Regions from separate parts of the Homo sapiens genome. Here regions 1 and 3 are each linked to region 2. The links come from fine-mapping of genetic effects on gene expression. A gene starts in region 2. Each other region holds a variant in brackets. All regions are shown on one strand. Distances are from middle to middle.

What was found.
Region 1: its variant is fine-mapped to the expression of GRIK3 in esophagus muscle (GTEx, PIP above 0.99). The same link has a PIP of 0.9 or more in atrial appendage, esophagus mucosa, gastroesophageal junction, sigmoid colon and tibial nerve.
Region 3: its variant is fine-mapped to the expression of GRIK3 in transverse colon (GTEx, PIP above 0.99).

The regions. Positions count from the first base shown.
Region 1 is chr1:36,861,902-36,869,901 of GRCh38, reverse strand. It overlaps GRIK3 (glutamate ionotropic receptor kainate type subunit 3), which reads left to right. Exons shown (of 16, transcript NM_000831.4): 5 at 101-154. Among named protein-coding and RNA genes, the nearest start is that of GRIK3, 170 kb to the left of the region's middle. The variant T/C (reference allele first, on the strand shown) is at 4,802.
Region 2 is chr1:37,030,349-37,038,691 of GRCh38, reverse strand. It overlaps GRIK3 (glutamate ionotropic receptor kainate type subunit 3), which reads left to right and starts at 4,177. Exons shown (of 16, transcript NM_000831.4): 1 at 4,177-4,698. The coding sequence starts at 4,584. RefSeq lists enhancers at 120-680, 2,926-3,486, 3,487-4,048, 4,623-5,522, 5,523-6,422.
Region 3 is chr1:36,876,393-36,884,392 of GRCh38, reverse strand. GRIK3 (glutamate ionotropic receptor kainate type subunit 3) reads left to right here. Exons shown (of 16, transcript NM_000831.4): 3 at 3,502-3,759. Among named protein-coding and RNA genes, the nearest start is that of GRIK3, 150 kb to the left of the region's middle. The variant C/T (reference allele first, on the strand shown) is at 4,156.

The DNA of each region.
Region 1 (8,000 bases), 170 kb after region 2:
CCCCAACCCACTGCCAGTCCCATTCTCAGCCCTGGGTGGGGATGTGGGGAGGGCTGCCCAGGGGTTCCCTGCTGATCACTAACACTCTGCTTTTCTGCAGGCCATGGCCATGGGCATGATGACTGAGTACTACCACTTCATCTTCACCACTCTGGTAATGTACCTCTGGGTCCTGGCACGGGAAAGGGGTGGGACTCTCATGGATCAAGTTCATTGTGGCTTAGCCTGGGCCAGCCCACTGAAGACAATTGCTGCAGCTTCCTCAGGCTGTAGGGGTGGCCCCAGGTAAGGGCACAAATATGTCTTTGTGACCTGCCCACTTGTGAGAGGCAGCATCATGTTATAATTAAGGATGTGAACTCTGGAGCCAATGTGAACACCAGCTCCTCTGCTCACCACTGTGGTTCCTTGGCTAAGGCACTTAACCTCCCTGCCTCAGTTTCTTCCTCTGCAAAATGGGCTTCTGCCTCCTAGGATTACTGTGAGCACCAAATGAGTTAATAAGGTAACACGCAGTGCCTGGTACATGAGGAGCTCTGGAAGTATTCACTATTATGATTATCATGGCCCTCGGTTCCTAGCCCACACTTCCCCACGCATATCTCGGGCCTCACGGGAATTGTCGCTTTGGATTCTGTCCACATTCATACTGAAGTCTGCCCACTCACTGTCAGCTAGCCCAGCCCACCTACAGGCTCCAGATGGGTCCTGTCCAAACTCTGAGAACATTTAGGGCCATTTAAACCCATTAGGATAATTAGCTGTGGCCTGAGTTCAGCAGAATAAAGAGATTCCTGTGCCAAAAGGGCACCCATCCTGAGCCTCACTGCCTTGCAGATAGACACCTTCAGACCCTGCTGGGGCCCTGGGCAGACTATTCCACCCATCCCAGGTCTGAGGTGAGTGACAGCCTCACTGACCATCCTGTCGCTTTTCAAAAAGCCTCCTGCAGTATGTGTCTGCCCAGCCACTGCAGCCCTGTAGGCCTCTAACCATATTCATTCATTTATCCAGCACCCAGCTAGCTCTCCCTACCCAGCATCTATGACCCCGTAGGTTCTGAGGGTCTGGTGGAAGGCGGGAAGTTTGAGGCAGTCTTACAGAAAACCAGATACTTGAACTAGGCCTCGAAAGATCCATAGGAGTTCACCAAGGGAGAAAGAGGAAGGACATTGTATGCAGAAGGAACAGCATAAGCAAAGGCCAAGAGGCAAGTTAGCTCTTCATGGTATGCAGGAGCTGGCTTGATCCAGCGGGCGAGAGCCAATTGCATTATCTCCTCCTAAGTCCATGTCATGTTGGTAGCTTGAAATCACTGTGACGGGAACGCTTACACAATGGAAGTGAGCAAATGCTACAAATAAGAGCCGCCTCCCCCAGAGAGCTGGTTATTAAGCACTTATCCTCCCTACAGTCCCTCCCTCTGCACCCTGTGCCCACAGCAGAGCTCAGGAGCCACCCTGCGATTCTCCTGATCCAGGGCTCAGACCTGGGGACCTGCCAGGAGCCATGCTGGGAGAAAGGGATCCTGGAAGCTGGCGAATGAGATCAGGCAGAGTGAAGCCAGCTCCCCTGAATCCCTTCTGGATTTCCGCCCACCTAAGCTGGCTTCTTCCTGCCATGCTGTCTCCTGGAAAGTCAAGGGAGGCTACCAGACCCCTGAAACTCTACCTCTGTCCAGAGCTGGGAGCAGGGCAGAGGAGCAAGACTGGGAAGGTGGGGTGGGGCACATTCCAGGGGTCCACAACTTTCTCCCCACTCATGGCAGCCCTCCCCATCCCATCCTGAGATCTTAGGGTGCTGAGAGCAACTCCTGGACCCGGGGACACTAGGATCCTCTCTTTAAGACCTTCGATCTTGACCCCAGTGGCCAATGGCATTAACGTGGAAGGTACTGGGGTCACTGGGGTGGTGCCTTCCCCAGAGTCTTGTCCTGGAAGGTCAGCCAGGCTGCAGGGCTGAGGGGCCAAAGCTTCAGGCCCTGCCATTTTACCAACTCAACGACCCCCCACCCCGGCCTTGGAATGAGGCTTGAGCCAGGCAGAGATGCTTTTAATAGGATATTTACGGCTGGGACTTGGAGCAAGGCCCAGAGGGGGTTTAATCACAAGCCCTGTGCAGACAGAGTGGGTGGCGAGGGCAGTACTCAGGGTGGGTGAAGGAGATAGGAAGATTTTGTTCCTGCTCTGACCCCAATTCTACTGAAACCTCCCAATGTCCCAAGGCTTTCTGCTTGGTGGCTCTATCTTATATTCTGTGTTGGATCCATCTCTGTACACCCCTCCCACCCAAGTGCCTAGCTCAGTGCCCAGGACCTTAGAGAGCATTCTTTCTCTCTACCCATGGGCAGACCTCAGCTGATTGGCCAAGAAGTAGTCGTCGTCTGTCCCAAGGGTGGTTTCTGCAATCTTGCTGGTGACACAACCCTCACCCTGGGAGCATTTAGCTATATGGGAGCTAGTCATTTATTTGTCACCAAGACTGGAAATTAGTGAGTGGGGATCAGGGATGCTAGACATTCTATGATGGGCAAGATTCTGGAGATGAGTTGTCCAGCCCCAGATAACTATGGTGCCCCATTGAGAAACATTGACTGATGCTCAGCCAGTCCACAATTGGATCTGGGAAAGTGGGTGATAATCAGAGAAAGAGATGGTGAGAAGAGGCAGAGGAGGAATGGATGGTCAACTGGGATATGATGTACCCAGGGTAGCTGTGGTGTGCTAAAGTCTCTAGGGAACAGAGACTAGCCCCGGCCAGTGTCCATTTTTCTTCATTTTCTTAATCATCCATTGATTCATTTATCCAGCAGCCATATACAAATGCTCTCCAAGGTCCTGGGCACTGCACTAGGCACTTGGGTGGGAGGGGTGTACATAGATGGATTCAACACAAAGCTCACAAGCTGGTGGCTTCCTTCATGTATATAAGAAACAAGAACTGTGCCCAGTTAACCTCTCTGTCCCCAGCACCCACATAGAAGCTGGCACATGGTAGGTGCTCATTAATGTCTGGATGGATGGACAGATGGATGGACAGACGGCTGGATGGATGGACGGATGGATGACTGCAATGCAATGTGGAAAGTAATCCGTGAAATTGTCAACACATCATCATAGCAACAGTTAGTTAAAACCACTCTGATCCCAGTTGGCCTGAGTTAGAATTGAGACTCTTCCACTCCCTTGGGCAAGTTACTTAACCTCTCTGTGCCTCATTTTCTCATCTATACAGTGGTGACAGTAATATTACTACCTCACAGGATTGTTACGCTGAGTGCATTGACGTCATAAAATGCTTAGAACAATGCTTGGCACTTATTACAGTGTAAGTGTTAAATAAACTAAACATCCTGCTTTTGTTTTCTGTGTGCTCAACATACCCCATCCCATCCAAAATTCAGAACAACTTTCCAAGGGAGATAGACTCTCCCAGTTTTATAGAAACGTGGAAACTGAGGCTCAAAGTCACTCTGCAAGAAAGGAGCAGAGCAAGGATTTTTTCGCAGCAGGGAGCTGTCCAGCTCCAAAGCCCTCTGCTGAAACCTATCATGCTGAAAGTCCACACCAAGTGTTCCCTGGCCTCCTCTGGCTGGCTCAGATTCCACACAATGCCTGACCATGTTGGTTCAGGTGTGGTAATTGAGGTCAATGGGGAAACGGAGCCTCCTGAAATCCCAGCAGCTCCCATGCTACACCAGTTCCAAAACCCTCTGATTTTAGGGCTGGACATTGTGGCTCACACCAGTAATCCCAACTCTTTGGGAGGCCAAGGCAAGGGGATCACTTGAGGCCAGTACAAGACCAGCCTAGGCAACATAGTGAGACCCTATCTCTACAAAAATAAAAATATTAGCCAGGCATAGTCGGGCAGGCCTGTAGTCCCAGCTACTTGGAAGGCAAACTGAGGCAGAAGGATTGCCTGAGCCCAGGAGTTAGAGGCTACCGTGAGCTAAGATTGTGCCGCTGCACTCCAGCCTAGGGGACAGAGCCAGACCCTGTCACTTTAAAAAAGAAAGCAAGAAGAAAGCCCTCTGACTTTCCTCTTTACACATTTGAGGCCAGCAACAGGGCACTTTGCACTCCCCATTGACTGGTGGGGAAACCTGGCATCAGGCACTTCCTGAAGTTTCATAGCAGATCAGTGACAAGAGGCCTTGGCTCCTGACTCCTGGTCCTGTCCTTGGCTGTTCCAGCTGACTGTCCTTCCTCCCCACACAATCTGAGGGTCGGGAAGAATGGACCCTTCCAGGGAGGCATAGCCCTTGCAATACACACAGTTCTGCAGTGGAGTATGGGGCGGGGTCTCCCAGAGTATCTCCCAGCAGAACCCCATCGGTTGGAGCACCAGCTGTGCTCCTGGTCCTCTCCCTCAGTCATATCCTGCTTCCGGTCTTCAGGATCCACTTCCGGCCCTGTTGCCGAGGCCTCTACCTCGTGATCCTCCCTCTTTGTGCCCATTGGTCAGTTGTGGCTTATTTGGGAGGACAGTGGCATCTGGCATTTATCTCCTTCCCTTTAGGAAACCCACATCACCAACTCTTCGCCTCTAAAAAAAATTCTCCAAATTTGCTTCTTCCATGCAGAAGATATTTTAATTACCCCAGCTGCCATTATCTGTTCCAACCAGCTTTGAGCCATTCCCAGATAACCTCGCATTAATCAGCCCCAGCTGAGCCCCTGGTACATGTCATGTGTAGGTAAAAGCCTGGAGGTGAAAAAAGAATTATAATAAATTAATAGATAAGCAATCACAATTAATGCCACTTCCTGGCAATAACAGTGATATCATGGGGAAGATA[T/C]TTTCATCTGTCATTCCTTAAGGCGATGTTTTCCAAGCTTCAGCTCCTACCCATTCAGACCCATGGGGTGCTAATGAATTAGTTTATTATGTTATGCTGAATGTTTCTAAAAGGTCCCTCGTCGATACTGAATTCAGTGTGTCAACATTTGGCATCGAGAACACAACTTTTTGCCAAGCAGCAAGGTTGCACACAGTTCACAGTGTACAGCACTTGGGGTCTTGGCCCTGGGCAGTCTGAATTAAAAAAAAAAAAAAAATGGAGCTGGACAAAAGAGCCTCTTCACCAGCTCCCCATTGTCATTGTCCTCGTATCACGGGGATGGGGGCACTCTGTGCCACAGGCCCTACAACACTTTGCAGCTAAGCCCAGGCTCAGGGGTTACAGGGAGGAAGGTCATCCCAATCACTACCACCCCAACCTGCCCCCTCCCGGGCTGTGATCAGCTGCAGCCTCTGTGTCAGTCTCAACAGACCAAATGCTGCCTCTGGAGACCAGAAGGGCTGGTTCCACCAGCACCCAAGCTCCCACCAAGGCCAGAGATGCTGCCCTTCACACTGAGTCAGGTTGGCCTCTGGTTACCTAGATGAGGGTAAATCGAGTCATGGAGGCCCTGGGCAGTCTAAAGCTTTGGCATCTTTCAAGCCTTAGATATCAGGTCAACACTGAATTGGAGAAGAGACTGAATGCCATGCAAGGAAAGGTGAGGAGGGCGCCCCCTGTAGGCAGAGCTCAGCTTCTCTTCCATGGTCGCAGCAGGTCAGCCCTGGCCCCAAACTTGCATAACACCACTGTCCAAAAGGAAATCCTTCCAGCTCCCCAGACCCTCCTGGTTGAAAGGCAGTTTGGGGAAGATCTCATCCTCCACCCCAGGCAGTTTACCAACCCTCTCCTAAACTTCCAGTCTGTAGATAACCCTGAGTTAATTAGCCCCAGCTGAGCCCCTGCTACATGTCACATGTAGATAAAAGCCTAGAGGTGAAAAAAGAACTATTATAATAAGTTAATAGATAAACAATGACAACTAATGCCACTTCCCGGCAATAACACTTATATCATGGGGAGGGTATTGGGTTGGTGCCATTAAAATAATAACAAAAACCACAATGACTTTTGCACTAACCTAGTATTTTCATCTGCCCTTCCTTGAAGCTGCCCCTGAGAGGAGGATGTGAAACACTTGTCGCTACATTCCAGGCTCTTCTCAGTGATGCTTAAGTGCCCCAGGAGCCACTCAGCTGGCTGACCCTTCTTTCCACTTTGGGTAACAGGAATATTCAGCCCATAGCTCATAGGGGAGACAGACCCAGACACAAGCAGTTGTTACCAGTGGCATGAAAGCCCAGAAGTCTCAGGATAAGAGCAGAATCGCGTCTGACGCACTCTGTTGTGCATGTGTACAGGAGCAATCAGGAGGGGCTTCCTGGAAGAGGTGATACTTGAGCTGATTCTTGGAGAATAGCTCACCCAAGAGAGGTCAAGAAGACAAGCATTCTTGCCTGGAAATAGAAGGCATACAAAGGTGCTGAACAGAGGGACGAGAAGCAGGACAAAGGGTACAGGGGCCAGCGAGACTGGGAAAATTAAGGCCTGAACTTGCATCCTGGGACAAAAAAATTGAGAGGGTAGGAAGGAAAGTGAGCCTGGAGGGGTGGAGAGCTTTGGAAAACTGTACTAAGGAATTTGTACCATATTCTGAAAAGACTACAAGGAGTCATGGAAGTATTTGAAGTGTGGAAATGACAGGCTTGGATTTATACCTTAGAAAGATCCCTCTAGTCCCTGCCCAGAGGGTGACTGCCCTGGCAGTGGGCATGAGTTGGGGGCTGGGCAGGTAGAGCCTCTCGGTAGGAGGAGATGCGTCATCATAGGGAAGAGGGAGGGCTCTGGAGCTGGGTAGCCTGGTGTTGACTCTGTCACTCCCCAGTTACAGAACCTTGAGCAAAAGGCCTAATATCTGTGTGGTTCAGTTCTTTCCTCTAAAATGGGGTGATAATAACACCATCCTAGTCGTGTGCCCATGTGAATCAATGAGTTAATACAAGTAAGGTACTTTGAACAATGCCTGCCATTCTGAGATTTGTAGGTGCTCAGTAAATGTGAGCTGACTTTGCTTGTTCTGATATTGCCAAGACGAGTAAGGTAGGAAGACACCAACCTATGTCTGCCCTGGGGGCTGTATGTACCCAGTAGCTGTCACAACCTCCTGCCAGACGAGGCAGAACATAAACATGTGTCAAACACATACATGATGTTTGATATGTCCCAGACATGTTCTAAGGGCATCTACAAACTCACTTATTTTCCTTGACAACTCTATATGGTAGGTGGCACTTTCAACCCCATTTTGCAGATGAGGCAACTGAGATGAGGAGAGAGGGTGAAACTCGAGCCCAGGTGGTCTGGCCCATGTCTGGCCACCTCAGGGAGCCGCCCTGGAGGAGCTGAGGGAGGGAGACTTCTTCTGGGATATTTATTCTCTCCCCTCTTTGCTGCCCTTCTCTGATTCGAGAGGCATCCTGATCTAAACCCAGACCCATCTGTGTGTGTTTCTCAGTCACGAGTAATCGCTTAGTGGCTTCTCAAAACACAGACTCCAGGCTCCACCACAGACTATGCATCAGCGTTATCTAGGTGTGGTTCATATTCTAGAAAAATAAAATCCCCAAAGACAGCTCTGATGCATGTCTTGTCCTGGACACCCACCGAGGACATAGAACATAGAGGGTTTGGAGTAAGACAATCAACGATGCATCAGTCAATGTTTAACAACCAGCTCTCTGAAAGGGAGAAAAAAGACAAAACACAGAAATCCTGATTTGTAATGCCTGCAAATGTCCATGGTACAAATACTCCTACCATGGCCAATACCAAGCTAGCCATGTAATGTCACTGAAGGCAGAGTTGGGAAGAAATGCTAACATTCAGCTCCCACTGGCCAGTGTGAGCCAGTGGCAGCACACCATTGAAATAGACCTGGGTACAAATTCAACTTTGACTTGTATGAGCTATGTGACCTTAGGTAAGTCACCTCACCTCTCCAACTCTCTTTTCTCATCTATAAAAATAGAATAGAGTGCTATTCAATGCCTACTTCACAGGGGGCTGTGAAGATGAAGCCATGGAGTCCTTGTGCAGGGCTGAGCACTGCCACCCCCCACTCCCTACTGACACTGGGGCCACAGAGACACCCTCTGGC
Region 2 (8,343 bases):
CCTGCTCAGGCAGTTGGCAAAGATCAGGCAAGGGCTGGCGGTTGCCTTCCTCTCATCATGGCCCCATGCTGGGGTGAGATGGGGCAAGGGAGCCCCTCCCCCATTCTCAGCAAGGCACCCCAGGTGCAGGCTTGTAGAGCAGCCTGGCCCCATGGTAGGACATTTAAGGGAGTGGCTGAAGCCCCAGGGCTTCAGCGTCCAGCCACGACCAGCAGCCTGCCTACTGGGTAGCAGGAAGGGAGCTGAAGGTAGGCAGGCCTCGGCAGAGGGCACTCAAGTCCTAGGAATCTGCACTCAGCCACTGCACACGTCTACTCCGTGGTTTCCCAGGGAAGCAGAGAACATGAATCTCGGTAACTCGAGCCCAGGGCATCATCACTCACTGCGATTGTGGGGGGGGTTGAGAGCCAGAGTGGATCAGTCTAAACAAAACACGTGCACAGGGGGCTCCTCCAAAGAGCATGATCGGCCACCACTGGGTGCCCCGTCCCTCACCCAAAGTAGCTGGGGAGGGGTGGGGGGACGAGGCCAGGGAGGGGGCTGGGAGTCTTGGGTTTCTTCCTGGAAATCCTACCCTCACCACCCACCTGTGAGCCAGTGGGAGACATGAATCTCGCTGGCAGGAACTCGGGCCAGCTCAGCCGTTTTCAGGGATGTTAATGAAATGCGGGAGCACTTGTCCTTTCAGACAGCGGCCCCTTTTATTTGGGAATGAAAAGCTGCATTAGTCTGAATGAGGTTTGGAGGCCTCATAAATCCGGCGCTGGCTGCCTCGTGGGGGAGCAGGGAGCCTAGGCCTGGCTGGTGGGTAGACTTGTTTACCAACAATGCGAAAAGCCAGGATTGGCGGCTCCCAATGCCCGGAGGAGATGCGGCTGGAGATAGTGCCAGCCCTGGTGCCTGCTGGTGGCGGGGCAGCCTGGAGAGGCATGTCATGCCACCGGCAGAGAGGGCTGTAGGTCTCTCTTCATGAGTTAGGGATGACTGGGCTCCCCGATCTGCCCTGATAAAGTGTCTGAGTATTCTGCTCTTAGCCTTCCACCGCAGGCAGCAGCCCCAGTGGGGCTCCACAAGAGTGATGAGAATTGGCCCCTGCAGCTTGTCCCCTACTCAGCCCAGATGGTAGAGGACAGGGTTAATTCTATGAGCTCAGGAGTCGGCTGAGCCTATATGTGAACCTTGACATCTCACCCACAGTGCCTGGCAAATGGTGATGCCCAATATGTTTTAGAAGAAAGTAGGAAGGAAGGGAGGGAAGGAGGGAGGGGAGGGGAGGAAGGGGGGAAGGGAGGGAGGGAAGGAGGAAGGGAGGGAAGGAGGGAAGGAAGGAGGGAGAGAGGGAGGGAAGGGGAATGGAGGGAAGAAAGAAAGGTCACATACCAGCGATGTGACTTTGGACCTCTTACTTAACCCCGCTGAGGCTCAGTCTTCATCTGTAAAATGGATTTGTTATTTTAGACAAAGATCCTATCGCAGTGGGTGTGGAGAGCAAGAGGTGAAGTGATGCGTGTAAGGTAGTGAATATATTGTCTGGAACATAAAAACATGTAATAAATACTAGGGGTCATTATGGGGATCGTTGCTGCTGTTTCTGTTCTTGCAATGCATCCCACCCTCCCCTAGACCGGGAGGGAACACGCTGCTGTTAGTTTTGGGGAAACCTCTGTGTCACAAAATGGCTCGCAGCCAGGTCAAGAAAAAGGCCCAGTCCCAGGCTGGCGATGGCAGCTTCCCTCTGGCCCCAACTTGGAAGGCAGGGTTCCAGCTGCCTTCCAAGTCCAGTGACTGGGCCCCACAGCCTCTGCAGCTGGGAGGCTCTTTCCCACCGCAGCCCTACGTGGCAGCAGAAAAAAGCCTCGATCCGCAGCGTGCTGGGTAACTCCCGCCCACTCTGGGATGCAGGAGGAGCAGGCCCAGCCTGTGCTGCTTCCCTGGGGCGCCGAGGGGGCTCGCAGGTGGCAGAGCCACACTCTCACCCTCTGGGGGCCTCAGCATCCCCCTCTGCCTTCCTCCCTTCGCGTTTCTAGCACCACTTTCATGCTAGCTTTTTTGGAGGCTGCTGCTTCTCCTCCTGCTCCCCTCCCCTTATCCCTCCCTTCCACAGGCCTTGGATCTGCTCCCTCCTGGGAGCCACACCTCTACCTTTCTGCTGCTTCTGTTTCTCTGCCAAGCCACTTGCAGGCTGACTGCAGGACAACCCAGGCAGAATTAGCATCCAGGCACTCCCCTTGCCTGTCCCCAGACCAGCCTTGGGCAATGCCGTTTTAGCCCTGTGTCCTTTGCCTCAAGTTCAGGTCCCTTTCCGTTTGTCTATCAGCGCACCGAAATTTTCTTCCTTAGAGAACAGCTAGGCCTTTTGGTTCCTTGGGGCAACCAAACCTGTTGCGGAAGCTGATAGGCAGGCGATGGGGAGGGGTGTGCGTCCCCAAGGAAGGGGCTCCCCCAGCTATATCCGGGAGGCCGCGCCCTCTGCTGCCCTCTCCTGCACTTCCTCCTTACTGGCGCCCACTGGAGCCCTTACTTTTTATCAAGAGGTGGCAGCTGCTGCTTCCCTAGCTTTGGTCTGCGTGTCCTTCCCTCCGATCCCTCGGGCAACATTTTCCAGTGGCTGCTTGGGAAACCAGCCGCTCCTGCTCCAGGGCGAGGGAGGCCCAACTTTGGCAGAGACAGACACTCAATAACCTCAGTTTGTTTGCTGGATTTTTGAGGATGTCCTCAGGACGGGCGCACCCCTCTGTGTTCTTTTGTGAGGAGCCCAGGGAGTCTCTCCTCCTCCCACAGCCACAGTGGCCTCCACCTCAGGTGGGAGGGCGTCCCTTCCTAATTGGCAGGATTGGCCACACTGAGATATTCACATCCCCACACAATGCCACGGGCCTCTGCACCCAGACAGGGAGGGGAAAAAAGAGGGAAATTAACAGGCGGGTGAGAGCTCGGCTCATAGAATATTTGTAAGAAAATTAAAGATTTGCTCTTCAGATGTTGGGGGCCATGCTCTTACCAGACAGCTGGCAAATGGGAAAGATTGGAAATGATAGAATAGATCAAATTATTTAAATGAGAAAAATAAATTCACACACAGCCTAGCCGCTGCCCGGTGACAGATCCGTTTATTTATCTACTGTATCGGCACCGCTTTGTCTCTGTCAAAAAGGTCATTAAACTCGCCTAACTGAGTAATTCGCAGCCTCCTGCTCCAGCCTCGCTCCACAGCCTTTCCCTTCCCTCACACCCAGCGCCACTTGAAAAAAAATTATTATTGCTAATAAACAACGTTGTTTTTCTTTTTAACCCCTTTAGCTTGCTCCCCCACGGATCCTACTCCATCCCACGACAAATTACAGTTTCTCTTTATTCTTTCTCAGGAGAATGAGGGAGGGGGCACCAGCCCTTCCTGCACAGTTACGGGAGAGGGCTGAGAGGGAGCGGGCCCGGCGCCCACGCCCCCCTACATCTAAGGCGTGAGCGGTCTTCCTCCTCCGCAGCCCCAGGACCTGTGCGCGGTCAAGTCCAGCTTCCCACAGCAGGGGGTCTGACTTGGGCTCTCCCACCTCTACCAACTCCCTCAGCTCCCCTGGCCCAGCGTAGACAATTCGCTTTGAATTCTGCCTCTCCGAACCCCCAGCCCCAACTCTGCTGCCAGGAGGAATGGGGTTGGGGAGGGAAGCCGGTTCCCGGGTCAGTCTCCCGCTGCCACCGCCGTCCAGCCAGCGCCCGCCGCGTGGGAGCCGCGAGGCCAGGCTCCGCAGACGGCGGGCTCCCGGTCTCGCTGCTCCCGGCGGGCGCGTCTCCTCCAGCTGGTCCGGCCGCTGGGCTGCCGCCGTCTCCCAGCTCGCGGTGCCAGCTCTCGCGCTCCACGCCTGGCTCCCGGGCTCCGTGCCCTCGCAGTAGAAGGGACTGGGGCCGGCGGGGCGGGTGGGGACGTCTGGGAAGCGAGGAGAGTCCTCGTTCTCCGGGCGTCCCCCTACAATGGGGCCAGGGTCCCCTTCCCCGCCCCCCGCGCAGGTGTGAGCGCGCGAGTGTGCGCCTCGGCAAGTGTGAGTGTGAAGTGTGTGTGCGCGGGGGAGTGCGCGGAGGGAGCGCGGGCGGCGGGCGGCGCGGGAGGCGGGAGGCAGGGCGCAGGGGAGGGGGCTGGGAGGGAGAGTGTGCGCGCGTGCAACTCCACTCCGGGGCTTTGTGCGAGCCCGGGCGATAGCATCGGCGGCGGCTGGAGGAGGAGCGGCCGGAGACGCGTGCAGCCCGCCCGCCAGAGCCCGGCAGCCGGGGCAGGTGGGAGCCCGCGCGGGAGCCGAGCCGACGCGAGTCGGAGCCGGAGCCGAGTCCGAGCGGAGTCCGGGCGGAGCCCAGGAGCCTCGCTCGCGGGCAGCCCGTGGGCGGCAGCCAGGCGGGGCGGGCGCCGGCGGGGCGGCCCCCCAGTAAGATGTGCGCGGCGCCGCGGGGCGCCCCCCACTTGCAGCGGCGCTCGGGAGCCGGGCGGCTGGGCCAGGCGGCGCCTTCGGGGCTGCTGCGCGCCCGCGCCTAGAGCTGCCGCCCCAGGGAGCCCGCCACGGCCGCGCCCCGGGCACGCTCGGCGGCGCCCAACGATGACCGCTCCCTGGCGGCGCCTCCGGAGTCTGGTTTGGGAATACTGGGCCGGGCTCCTCGTGTGCGCCTTCTGGATCCCGGACTCGCGCGGGATGCCCCACGTCATCCGGATCGGTAAGCGCTCCCTGGAGCCGGGGGTCTCCGTGCGCCCGGGAGGGGGCGGGAATGAGGGGGCCTCCCAACGCGTTCCGGAGAGATTTTCCTAACCTCTCTCCGAGCTGCTGAGCCGATCGGTGACCACCAGGAGCTCCTCCCTGTGAGGACAAAGTTCCAGAGTCGGGGTCACGGGCCTTACTTATTGGGGAGGAGGCCGCCGGGCCGCAGTGGGCGAGGGGCCCTTGGCGCGCTCCTGGGAGGTCAGACCTGGCACAGTGTGGCGAAGGTTTCCAGTGCGATCCCGAGTCGAGGGCGCATTTCGCGGTGACTGCCAGCATGAACCGCAGCCGACCGAGTTCTGCGATCGGGCTTCTCCGCAGAGTGGGGACCCTGGGGAAGGCGCCAACTTCTCTCCTCTGCCCACCTCACTCCCCGCGGGCCCTTCGTCCCCACCTCTGGCATAGCTCGAGCAGCCGCAGCGAGGTCGCAGGGCACAGATTCGCATGACGAGGGCAGCCGGTCTTCTCTCCTGGTGGTCGCCCTTGGCCTCGGTGGTACCGGTTCAGCCCCGTGCCATGGGGCGGGGGTTGGGGGAGCAGGACCCCGCTGCCCGCTGCAGCTGGTCCCTCGGGGCCAAGGCCTCTCTCCCGCCTGGGGCAGTGCAGGTAGAGGGAAGGGACGATGGAGGCCGCCCAGTGCGGCCCGGGCAGGCGGCCCAGGGACGCCAGCGGTTTTTAAAGTTAGCCCGAATTCCTCCGCAGCTGGCGGCGGCTGGCGGGGCTGCGCGCGGCTTTCCGGGGCTCCGGCTTCTCCGCGTCTCTTCTCGCCGGAGACTCTTACTCCGGTCTTTAACTTTGTTGTGGCCGCCCAAGGCACCCTGCAGGCCTGAGCGCCGCGCATGTCCCGGGCCGACGACCGGCAGGGCTGGGCCTGGCCGGGCTAAGACGGAGCCTCCATCACCGCAGGCCCTGCGCCCGCCACCAGGCCGGACACCTGGGCCGCCTGGGTTCACTCGGCGCCAGCACCAGCGCCTGGCACCAGGCGAGCCGGACTCCGCCGAGCCAGGGCCACCTTCCTCCTCTACAGCTCTTCTTCAGGGCGGACCTTGGGCTGCCAGCGGCGTGAAAGAGGTGCCGGAACCGGTGTCGGGCTTGGTTTCCGTACTTGAGATTTTCCTAGGAGGCGGTCAGAAACCCAGCGGGTGGGTCTCCTCCTGGGCGGCCGCCCGGGAGCCGGACCCTCTTGAACACCATCTGGATGGGGCAGAGCACAGTCCTCAGCTCTGCCCACGCTGAGATCTTTCGGTCCATGCCCAGGACCCTGGCAGGCAAACACCAGCACCGGAGGCAGAGGAGGCCAGGCACGGGAGGGGACACTGGGGACAACCCTTATGGTCAGGCTTAACCCTTTGCAGCCCAGCCTGGTTGCTCCTGACAACCGAAATGTCTTCTATCTCTGTGCCTTTGCCTGCCCCAAGCCCAGCCTGGCACCATTCCAGGGGCAGGAAGCCTCCCCTTCCCCCCCCAGTAATGGACCAGCACTTCCTTTATTCCCTGTCTCCTTCCCTCTGCTTTTTTGGGGGCCTGCGTCGTAGGGTGTCCTTGGGGAAAAAGGTGGGGGGACTGAGAGGGTGCTATTTGCCCATCGCACGGATTGCAGTTCCCTTTTCCTTGATCCTTCTTCCACAGGGGTGGGATGGGTGTGCTCCCAGCCCAGCCTCAGGGATGGAAGTCTTTGGAGGCCCAGAAGGACAGGCTACCGTAAGGGCAGCCTCAGAGGGATAAGCTGGGAAGGCGCAGGATGATGTATCCTTACTGTGAAATTGAATGGGTTAGGGAGTTCCTCCCAGCCCTTAGGAAGAGCATCCCCAAGCCTGCCCGCCCTTTCTTGGGTTCAGCGTGTAATAATGAAATTAAAGGATGGCAGAGCCCTCCTCTCTTCTAATCTTCTTCGTATTAAGCCCCAGGATTAATTAGCGTGTCAGCCCAGGTCATTTATATCCAAGAGCCCTGCCCCATTTGATTCTCAGCCCATGGACTGGGGTGTTGTGCCTGCGCCAAACGTGACTGCCAGAGCTGTGCCAGTTTGGGCGGAGGATGGGAGGACTCTGAGGCCTCTGGAGACTCCTGGGGAGCTGAGTTTCTGTCCTTCTGAGCCCCTGCTTGAACCCCAGCTGGAGCCAGGGAGCTACAGTGGACATGGACAGAAAGAGCGAGCGAGCGAGAGAGAGAGAATCTCATGCTAAAATCCAAACACACCACCTTGGCTGGGCCCAGTGCCCTCTCCCTTTTCCCATCCCCCCCATCCCTGGGATCTCAGGGTTCTGGCTGGGGCTTTAAGAATTTAGGCCCTCTGGAGTGTGCTAGGTGCTTCTGATTCTCAAGACTGGCACCTGAGCCGGCTGAGCTTGGAGCTGAATGCTTCTCCAGCAGCCAGGCATCGCCGAGCACCAGCCCGGAGAGGGCTTTCTTGCAGGTGCCAGAGGGGCTCTCTGGGCTGAGGAGCATCGTACCCACCCCCTCTCTTTGTGCCTCTTTTGGGGGCTGAAATTTCCTCTTAGACAAGGAGATGGATAGCTCAGCAGTGTGACAGAGTGTTCAAACAATCCGTCTTGAATAGATGAATTGCATTGCTCTGTCTTTTTGTAATTGTGTCTATCAGAAGGAGAGGTCAAGGCATTGATTGCTTGGATGGTTTGCAAGTAACAAAAGAGAGTGAGGGAGAGAGCAAGGGAGAGAGAATGATTGGATTGTAGTCTGCGAGAAAAAATGATCATTGATTATTTTATGTGAATATGTGGAAGATGTATTCTATGTATGATTATCAAATGTTGTGCATTGAAGGTTTTCAAGCCATATTGTTTGGCATTTTATTATTATTATCGTCGTTATTATTGTTTGGGTGAATCCCAGTCTTAACTTACGGAAGGCAGTTTAATGCATAGATTCTCTCAGCCAAACGGGCTTCAGTGACCTCCCGTGGGGACCTGAATTTCCAGGTTACCTGACCCCAAATCTGTAGTGGAGGGGCTGCTGGACTTGGAGCCAGGAGGTCTGGGTTTTCTGCTGCATCTGCCACCAGTTTGTTGGGCCATTTCCATCAAATCACACCTCTCCCTGGCACCCCAGGCCTCAGTTTCTCCATCTGTAAACTATTTGGTTGGCCTTAATGGTTGGTATGTTCTGTGGTTTCAAAGTTCCCTTTAGTGCAGGCTGGCGGGCACTGTTATGCCATTGTAGGTTTCATGGTTAGTTCTCTCCTCATGTTATGGGCATATGTAGGATTGAGGGCCAGCCTGGAATTTGAAAAGGGAACTAGACAGTGGTGGCAGCAGCTGGGGAAGCCTGGCCAGCTCTTCTGTGTGTTGAGGAGCTCAAGTGGATGGTGGCGATCTCCAGCCAGCCAGTGGGGAGGTTTGAAGCCAAATGACTGCAGAGACATAAAGCAGGTGTTGGGGGGGGGGAGGGGGTGGGGGGTGGGGAAAAGGAAGGGTTGGCCCAGCTCTGGACTCTGAGCATCTACAGATAGAGCAGAACTGAGCTGCAAGGTCCTGAGTTTCCTGAATATACAGGGGCCCAGCAGGCAACAGCAGCCGATCCCTGGGGAGAGACACCCCCTCCCTCAGAGTTCCCAAACCGGCCTCATCTGTAACTCCTATGACTG
Region 3 (8,000 bases), 150 kb after region 2:
GGTCCGAGCATGGCCTCCTTGGGGAGAGGGAACTGAAAAAAGAACTAGTCCTAAATTTGACAATTCACCAGCAAACCCAGAGTTCCTGTTTTTAAAGCATTTATTATCACTGTGGTTTGTCTCACACACCTGCTCACACCAAGGGCTACCCAAGGCATGTTGACTCAAAGGTGACAAGAGCAGGAACAAGATGGTGCTTCCCCGACTTGGCTCCCAGTCCCAGAACTACAGAAGCACCAGGAGGATGCCATGCCCCCGTTGTATGTGCTCTCCTGCACCTGGCCTTGGCCACAATGAATCCTGGGTTGCCCAGGAGATACCCTCTGTACTGGCACTGCTGCTGTTCTGCCCCGTGTTACAGGGGGCTCCAGCAGACCCCTAACAAAAACTAGCCAGCTCATCACATTGCTATATCTTTCACCTTGCCCTTAAGTGGCAATCTCTGGTGTTCCTGGTAGAAGTACAGATTTCAGGAAAAATAACTTCTTTATATAAAATCTCCCATTTCCAGGAGGCAGTGGGAGTGGTGGATGTGAGTCAACAGGAAACACAACCCAAGACCACATATTCTGATGGATTCAAAACTACCCTGTACCTCTGGATCAATCTGGATCAATCTGGACCATCCTTAAGCCCAGGCGAGAGGGACCCTTTCCCAGGGCCTGTGCTTTGATGTCTTGCCCTCTGCCTCCTCTGGTTGGCCTCTCCTCCCGGGACAAGGAGTCAGTGGGACCAGGGGACATACCCACCAGGAGCCTGTGCCCTGCCCTTCCAGACTTTCCTCTAAGGATCTAGAACCCTGAATTTCCTGCCCACTTGCCCCTGAGCCCACTTCTAGGACATGCGTGGGCCTCTTCCTTGGGTCTGTCTTCCAGAGGGAAAGCCATACTTGCAGGAGGTGCACTTTTAGGCCCTAAGGGTGACCAAGGGGCAGCTGTTTGCAGTGGGTGTAGACAGTGTTTGGACATAAGGGCTGGGGTTTCCACAGAGAATGCAAGGCCCCTTATGGTTCAGGATGGAGCCAGTGGTAAAAGAGAAAGGGGGAGAATGGGGTCCTGGTGCTACCTCTCCCCATGTCACTGTGTAGGAGAAGTCTCCATTCTCACCTGACTTTCCAGATTGTGATGAAGGTACATTTGTCAAGGTAAGAGAAAAGGACGTGTTTCGTTTAACAGTTTTTTAGCTTGACTAACAGCATGTAACTATTTAGCCGTATGGTATGTAGGCTTCCACTTATACTCTGGCCCTGGGCCCTGCAAATCTTAGGGGTAGGCCTGTGCCCAGTGGGTCATTCCCAGAGGCCCTTGAGACAGCCAGGCCTCAATACACTGAATCCAGTGTATTCATTCCTGCTTCGGTGCTCTGTCCTGCCTCCTCCTGTGTGCATCAGATGTCATATGTGTGCACATAGTGTCATTCCCCTGTCCACAGGTAGGTGAGCTTGCTCATGCTCTGTTGGTGGATCTCCGATGGTTGCAACTGGCGGAAAACTAAAACCTAAATGGCGTAAGTCTTGGTTCATGCAAATTCTAAGTCCAGGGTTTTGCCTGGTGGGCGACTCCTGTGTTTTCTCTCTCTTGGCTCTGCTCAACCCACACTGACTATGTTCACAGACAGGCGCCCCTCTTTATGAGCACAAGATGGCTACTGCAGCTCCAGCTGTTACTTCCTTGAAGGTTCACTTAAAGAGGGAGGTGCCCCTTTCTCAGTCCAGTGGATCTCATGGCATCCCACTGGCTCTGACTGGCCCACAAATGTCCTCTAAACTCATGGCTGTGAACTAGGAAGGTCAGTGAGTGGTTTTCTGGGTGCGAGCCGCATTCTCTGCACCAATGGGTTGACAGTGGAAAAGAGGGGTGAAGCCCCAAGGAAAATTAGAGACAGTTGAGAAAAGAAGAGAGAATGGCTTCTGGGGAGCTCTCCCACCTACCCCAGAATGACTCTAAGAGGTCCCCTTTCTATGGATCTTTTAGGCAGAATCCCCCATTTTGAGCCCCAGCTGCCCTGGGTCTGCTCATTTGATGCTCTGTTGTGCCCACTGATGTTCTACCATCCCAGGCCGGTGGAAAGCATCTGCTGCCTCACCTGCCTGAGTTTTTGGACCTCTGCAAGAACCTGAACTGTTTGAAGGCAGGGATTCGGCATTCATTCAACATTCAGATGATGATTCGGCACTGTCGATACAGCAGTAAACCACATAGATCAAGGCCCTGCCTCTTTGGAACTTACATTCTACTGGGAGGAGAAAGTCAACCAATGGACAAGACTTCCAGTGATCATTTAATAAAGAAGGAAATAAACAGGGCATGGGGGGACAGGGATTGTGATTATAAATTGTGCGGTGAAGGCCTCCCTAGTAAGACACAGACACAGAGGCCTCAAGGAGGAGGGGGAGGGAGTCTTGAGGCTCTATGAGGGAAGAGCATTCCAGCCAGAGAGGACAGCACGTGCAAATAGGCAGGAATGCACTTAGCATGTTCAAGGAGCATCATGGAAGCCAGAGGAGCTTGAATGCTTTGAGGGAGGGAAAGAAGGATGGGAGACGAAGTCAGAAAAGTGGCGGTAGGGACAGGGAAGGGAGGAGCTACAACAAGCAGGATCTCTGGCCACTGCTATGACTTTGGCTTTTGCACTGAGGAGCCCTTGAAGCAAAGGAGTGACGTAATCTACCTTATACTGTGGAAGTCTCACCCTGGCTGCTGAGTGCAGAATAGACAGGAGGGAGGATGACTGAGGAAGCTTCTGCAATAATCCAAGCCAAAGATGATGGCGGCTTGGACCAGGATGGGAGTCGGGGCTGGGAGTGGCGGGAAGTGGTCAGGTTGTGATGTATTTTGCAGGTGAAGCCACAGGAGTTGTTGATGAATTGGGGTGTGGGATATGAGTGAATGAGAAGAATCAAGACAGAACCATGGTTTTTGGCATATGGGTCCAGGGACAATGGAGCTGCTGTTTATGGAGGTGAAGGAGGTTGGGACAAGAGGGGATCCTGTGCTGGACATGTCAGATCTGATATGCATGTCAGATATCCAACTGGTGATGTTGAGTAAGAGGTGAGATGCACAGGTCCGGGGTAGGGAACAGGCCGGGCTAGAGGTTGAAGTTGAAGCACCATCAGCCAGTTTGATTCTATTTGTTTCTCAAGTCCCCCAAGAACAGAACCTGGCACAGAGATGGTGATGCTAATCCCAGGATGGTAACATTGAATGTGGTGATCACTTTTGTCATGGGCACTTCCTAAGGAAAAGGGACGTACCCTGGCACTGTGCTCCAGTCTCCCACAACCATGTCTTTCCACCTTCATGTGGTCTTGCAAGGCAGGGACTGTTAGAACCCCTGTTTTCAGATGAGGAAACTGAGGTTCAGAGAGCTCATCCATTGTGCACCCACCGAGGGTTCCAGTTGCTGTTTTTCCCACATGTTTACAGGATCATCAGCATCACTGTCCCCATACCCACAGCCCCAGTGCTGACCCCTGTGCTGCCCTACCCTCTGTTGCAGCCTGTGACCAGCTGGCACTGGGCGTGGTGGCGATCTTCGGCCCATCACAGGGCTCCTGCACCAATGCCGTCCAGTCCATCTGCAATGCCCTGGAGGTGCCCCACATCCAGCTGCGTTGGAAGCACCACCCGCTGGACAACAAGGACACCTTCTACGTGAACCTCTACCCCGACTACGCCTCGCTCAGCCATGCCATCCTCGACCTGGTCCAGTACCTCAAGTGGCGGTCAGCCACCGTGGTCTATGACGACAGTACAGGTGGGTGGCCAGGCCTGGCTAGGCTGGGGGCAACGGTTGAGGGGGGCAGAGGCCCAGGATCAAGCTCTTGTCTGTTTGTTCAGCACAGCTGCCCTGGGGGAAGAGGCTGTGTTCCATACCCCAGTTCCACTCGGTTATGCTGATGTTCACCCCTGCACCCACTCACACCCTGTGCACCCCAGCGGCACTCATATCTCACTCAGCCCCAGCGCACCTCACCCCTGCCTCACACTCAGCTCCTCCTCTAGCAGCACAAGTGTTCAAATCTGCACTGAACACCCACCCTAGCAGCAGCACACACATCTGCAAGCCACACCGACACCTGCCCATGCCCTTACGCTCACACATTTCCATCTGCTGCAAACACATCCACCCTCACACTTGCACACTCACACA[C/T]ATAGCTTATGGCGTGGCCTAGTGTTAAGTGTGTACACACTGGAGCCAAACCACCTGGGTGTAAATCCCATCTCTATCACCTGCTGGCTGAGTAGCCTCTTTGTGCCTCAGTTTCCTATAAAATGTAAATCTGTAAAATGTGGGATTACAAGATGACAGTGACAAGCACTGACATGCAGTGAGCGCTGAAGGTTGGTTCTTCTCATCCTCCTCACACCTTCACCCGCCACACACACACTCTTCTCTACCCACACTCACACACAGACACCTGCACGTGCCCAGCTCTGCTCGCACACACACCAGCCCCTGCCATACCCACTTGACCGCTGACCCCAGCCAGTGCCAAGCTTGCAGACGTCAGCACCAGGCTGTTGTCTCATCCTGCCAGGACAGAAAGAGGAGATGGGCTCTGGGGCCCGTGGCTATGAGCTGCGGGCCCAAAGCTGGGCTCCCTGATGTGGCTGCACCTGTCCCACATGCTCTGCCAGCTAGAGCTAATGCTGCCCACATTTTTCTGGGTAGGACCCACCTGACCCACTCCTGCCCTGCCTTCCAAGTCCAGCCTGGGCTCTGCCTTCCAGAAAACCCTTGCTCCAATGTGATACCCCCTGCCTCTCAAGTCCCAGGCCCTTAGAGAGGGCCCAGAGCACACACCTAGCAGATAACCACCAACAAACCCAGCAAACGCACTCTGGCTTTTCCTTTGGATCTCATTCATTGCTAGGAGCTGGAGATACTTAGATAAACAAAACCCACTCTTTCTGTCACCCAGGCTAGAGTGCAGTGGTGCCACCACAGCTCACTATCACCTCGACCTCTGGGATCAAGAGATCCTCCCACCTCAGTCTCCCAAATAGCTGGAACTATAGGCATGCAGCACCACACCTGGCTAATTTTGTATTTTTTTGTAGAGCCAAGTTCTGGCTACGTTGCCCAGGCTGGTCTCCAACTCCTGGATTCAAGCAATCCTCCCACCTCAGCCTCCCAAAGTGCTGGGATTACAGGTGTGAGTCACCACACCACACCAAAACTCAGTTCTTGGTCTTGGCAAGCACTACATTGTAGGGAAACACAAACGGGACAACATAGCCATCTGCATGAACAGAGCCATCTCCATGTAGCTCTATGTACAGAGAGCTAATGGTCTGCCATAAGTCACAAAAAGAGCAAGCAGGAAAGGGAAAAGGGAGAGAAGAGCCACTGAGGGCACTGACCGCTGCCTGGTCCCTGCCTTCATCCTTAAGTCATCCTTGTGAGGATGTGTGGGGCAGGGACAGACCTGGAGAGTCCCCTAGAGATGGAATTCATACATGCTTCTGGATTCATCTGCTAAAGAAGGCTACTGTTTACCTGCTGCGAACCAAGTGGTGCAAGTGTGATCTTATTTCATTTCATGTAAATCTCATAGTAACTCCCTGGAGCGATGAATTAGAAATGAGGAAACTGAGTCCCAAAGAGGTGACATGCCCTGTGCACTGTCACCCAGCTAGTGAGTGCCAGAGCCAGCATGCACCTACAGGCCTGTTTGAGCCTAAAGTCTGTGCTGCTAGCCAGCATGGAGCTGTTTCTTCTCCTCTTTCTTTCCAAAGGCTTGAGTCCCAAGACATTTCTTAGCCTGGCCTCTTAAGAGAGAGTGACCTTGGCAAGTCACTTAACCCATCTGGCCTTGCTCTGCCCACATGTCAAGAGCTGCTGCATCCAGCCTTGAAAGAGCCCTCCAGCTCTCAGCTGCCTGTGATTCAATGTCAGCTTTTGATTACCTCCTAATGGGGACTGGAAATAGTAGGGAGAGACTCCCTCAGAAAAGACAATTGGAAAGCTGTTTATTTAACTCAGGCTTCTACAAGCATCTATTGAGTTCCTGCTATTTCCAAAGCACCCGACAGAAGATCCTTGAGAGCAGGGATCCCCAGCCTGGCTTATTCACCCCAGCATGAAGACCTTGCCATTGAGGGGCACTCCTGCCCACCTCCCAGCCACTCCAGTGTTTCTGCTGCATTGTGGAGTTGTTTCTTAATGTACCACTGTGAATCATTATCTGTCTGTGAGTCTGTGTCTGCTTCCAGGCCAGGAGCTTTCAGTGTCTCCAGGATTTAACACAGGGTCTGGTACAGTGTAGATGTTTTTCATTGTTTGTTGGCACTGAGTTGGATTGGACTGGATTGGATTAGTTTGGATTGAATTGGAAATCAAGTTGAATTAAACCCTAATTAAATATTGAAGGAAAGAGTATACGGGTGAAGAAACAAAGATGTTGTTATCCTGTCTTCTTTTGAAAAGTTAATCTTAGCATAGAAGAATGGGTGCCTGCCCAGAGGTCACACATAATTCTAGGCCATCAGAGCTAAGAATGAAATGGCATATACATTTAGTCAGAGCCAGACCACTTGGGGAATGGAAGCTCTATGGCCTTGGCTGGTCTGAGCTGACTTACCAGAGGAGGAGAGATTGGAGCAGGATAGGTGAATGAGGAGAGGATAGATGAATGAGGAGAGGAATCATGAGGGAATTACAGGTGGAGGGAACAGCATGAGCAAAAACTAGGTTGGACTGTACCTAGCAGCTTAACCAAGAGGACAGCCTGGCTAGGGGAGAGGATTCAGGTATGGAAGGTGGGAAGAAAAAGTCAGATTAACAGAGTGTAGCTGGCTATGCAAGGTCTCTGATGTCCAGCCTCAGAGTTCAGGTTTTATCTTTAAAGCAGCCAAGGATCATTGAGTATTGCTGAGCAAAGGCGTAGAATAATCAAAGCAGAGTTTTAGAAGGTGGTTCTAAGAGCAATGCACAGGGAGGGTTGGAAGGAGAGCCTAGAGCAAGGAGACTAGAGCACAGCCGACTGCACTGGTCCAGACAGGAGCAAAGGAGGCCAGAATTCAAGGGGTGCTTGGAAGAGAACATGGGGCCAGAATGGAAGAGAAGAAAGGGATGTGAACAGGGTAATGTTGAAGACATGTAACTGGAATGTCATGGGTACAGAGTGTCAGAGCAGACACTGACATAGTCTAGGTGGAGGGTGGAGGAAGTGGCTTTGCAGAGGAAAAGGTGCTTTATCATGATGATGGATACCATGCTAGCAAAACTGGCCAGAGCTGATGCTCAGGTCTGCAGCTCTTACCCACAAGTGCCTTTAGCTCTGACTATAAGTACACGTCACTTCATTCTCAGCTCTGATGGCCTGGAATTACCTGTGATCACTGGGCAGGTACCCACTCCTCTGGAATACAATTAACTTCTCAAAAGGAGATAGGATAGCAACATCTTCATTTTTTTATCCTTATACTCTTTCCTTCAATATTTAATTAGAGTTTAATTCAACTTCATTTTCCATTTGATTCAGTTAAATTCAACTCAATTCAGTTCAACAAATATTTAAAACATAGGGGAGTCAATGGGTCAGTGAGTTTGATCAAGAAGACAATGAGCACTAGGGGCTCAGGTTTGGCTTCAGCCAAATAATATAACTTTGATGATGTATAGTGGGTAGAAAGAAGTGTGCTCCCAGAATCCAGATATGTCAAAGGGCAGGACAATGTATGGGTCATCAAACCCATGGAGTGGGAAATACTCCACAGTGGGCTTTGGCTGTGTTTGCTTTGGAGATTGTGTCCATCAGGATGTTTTGGCTGCAAGTAACAGACAGCCCAACTCACATTGACTCAAGCAATAAACCGTTATCTCACTGACAAGAATTCTGGAGATGGGCCTTTCCTGGGATGATTTAGCAGCTTGACAAAGTCAGGGTGCTGGGTCAGTATTGCCACAGCTCTCTTGGCCTTCAGCTCATAGTCACAATAGGGCTGCTGAAGCTCGGAGCATGCAGTAGGTGGCATACAGAAGGTAGAGGC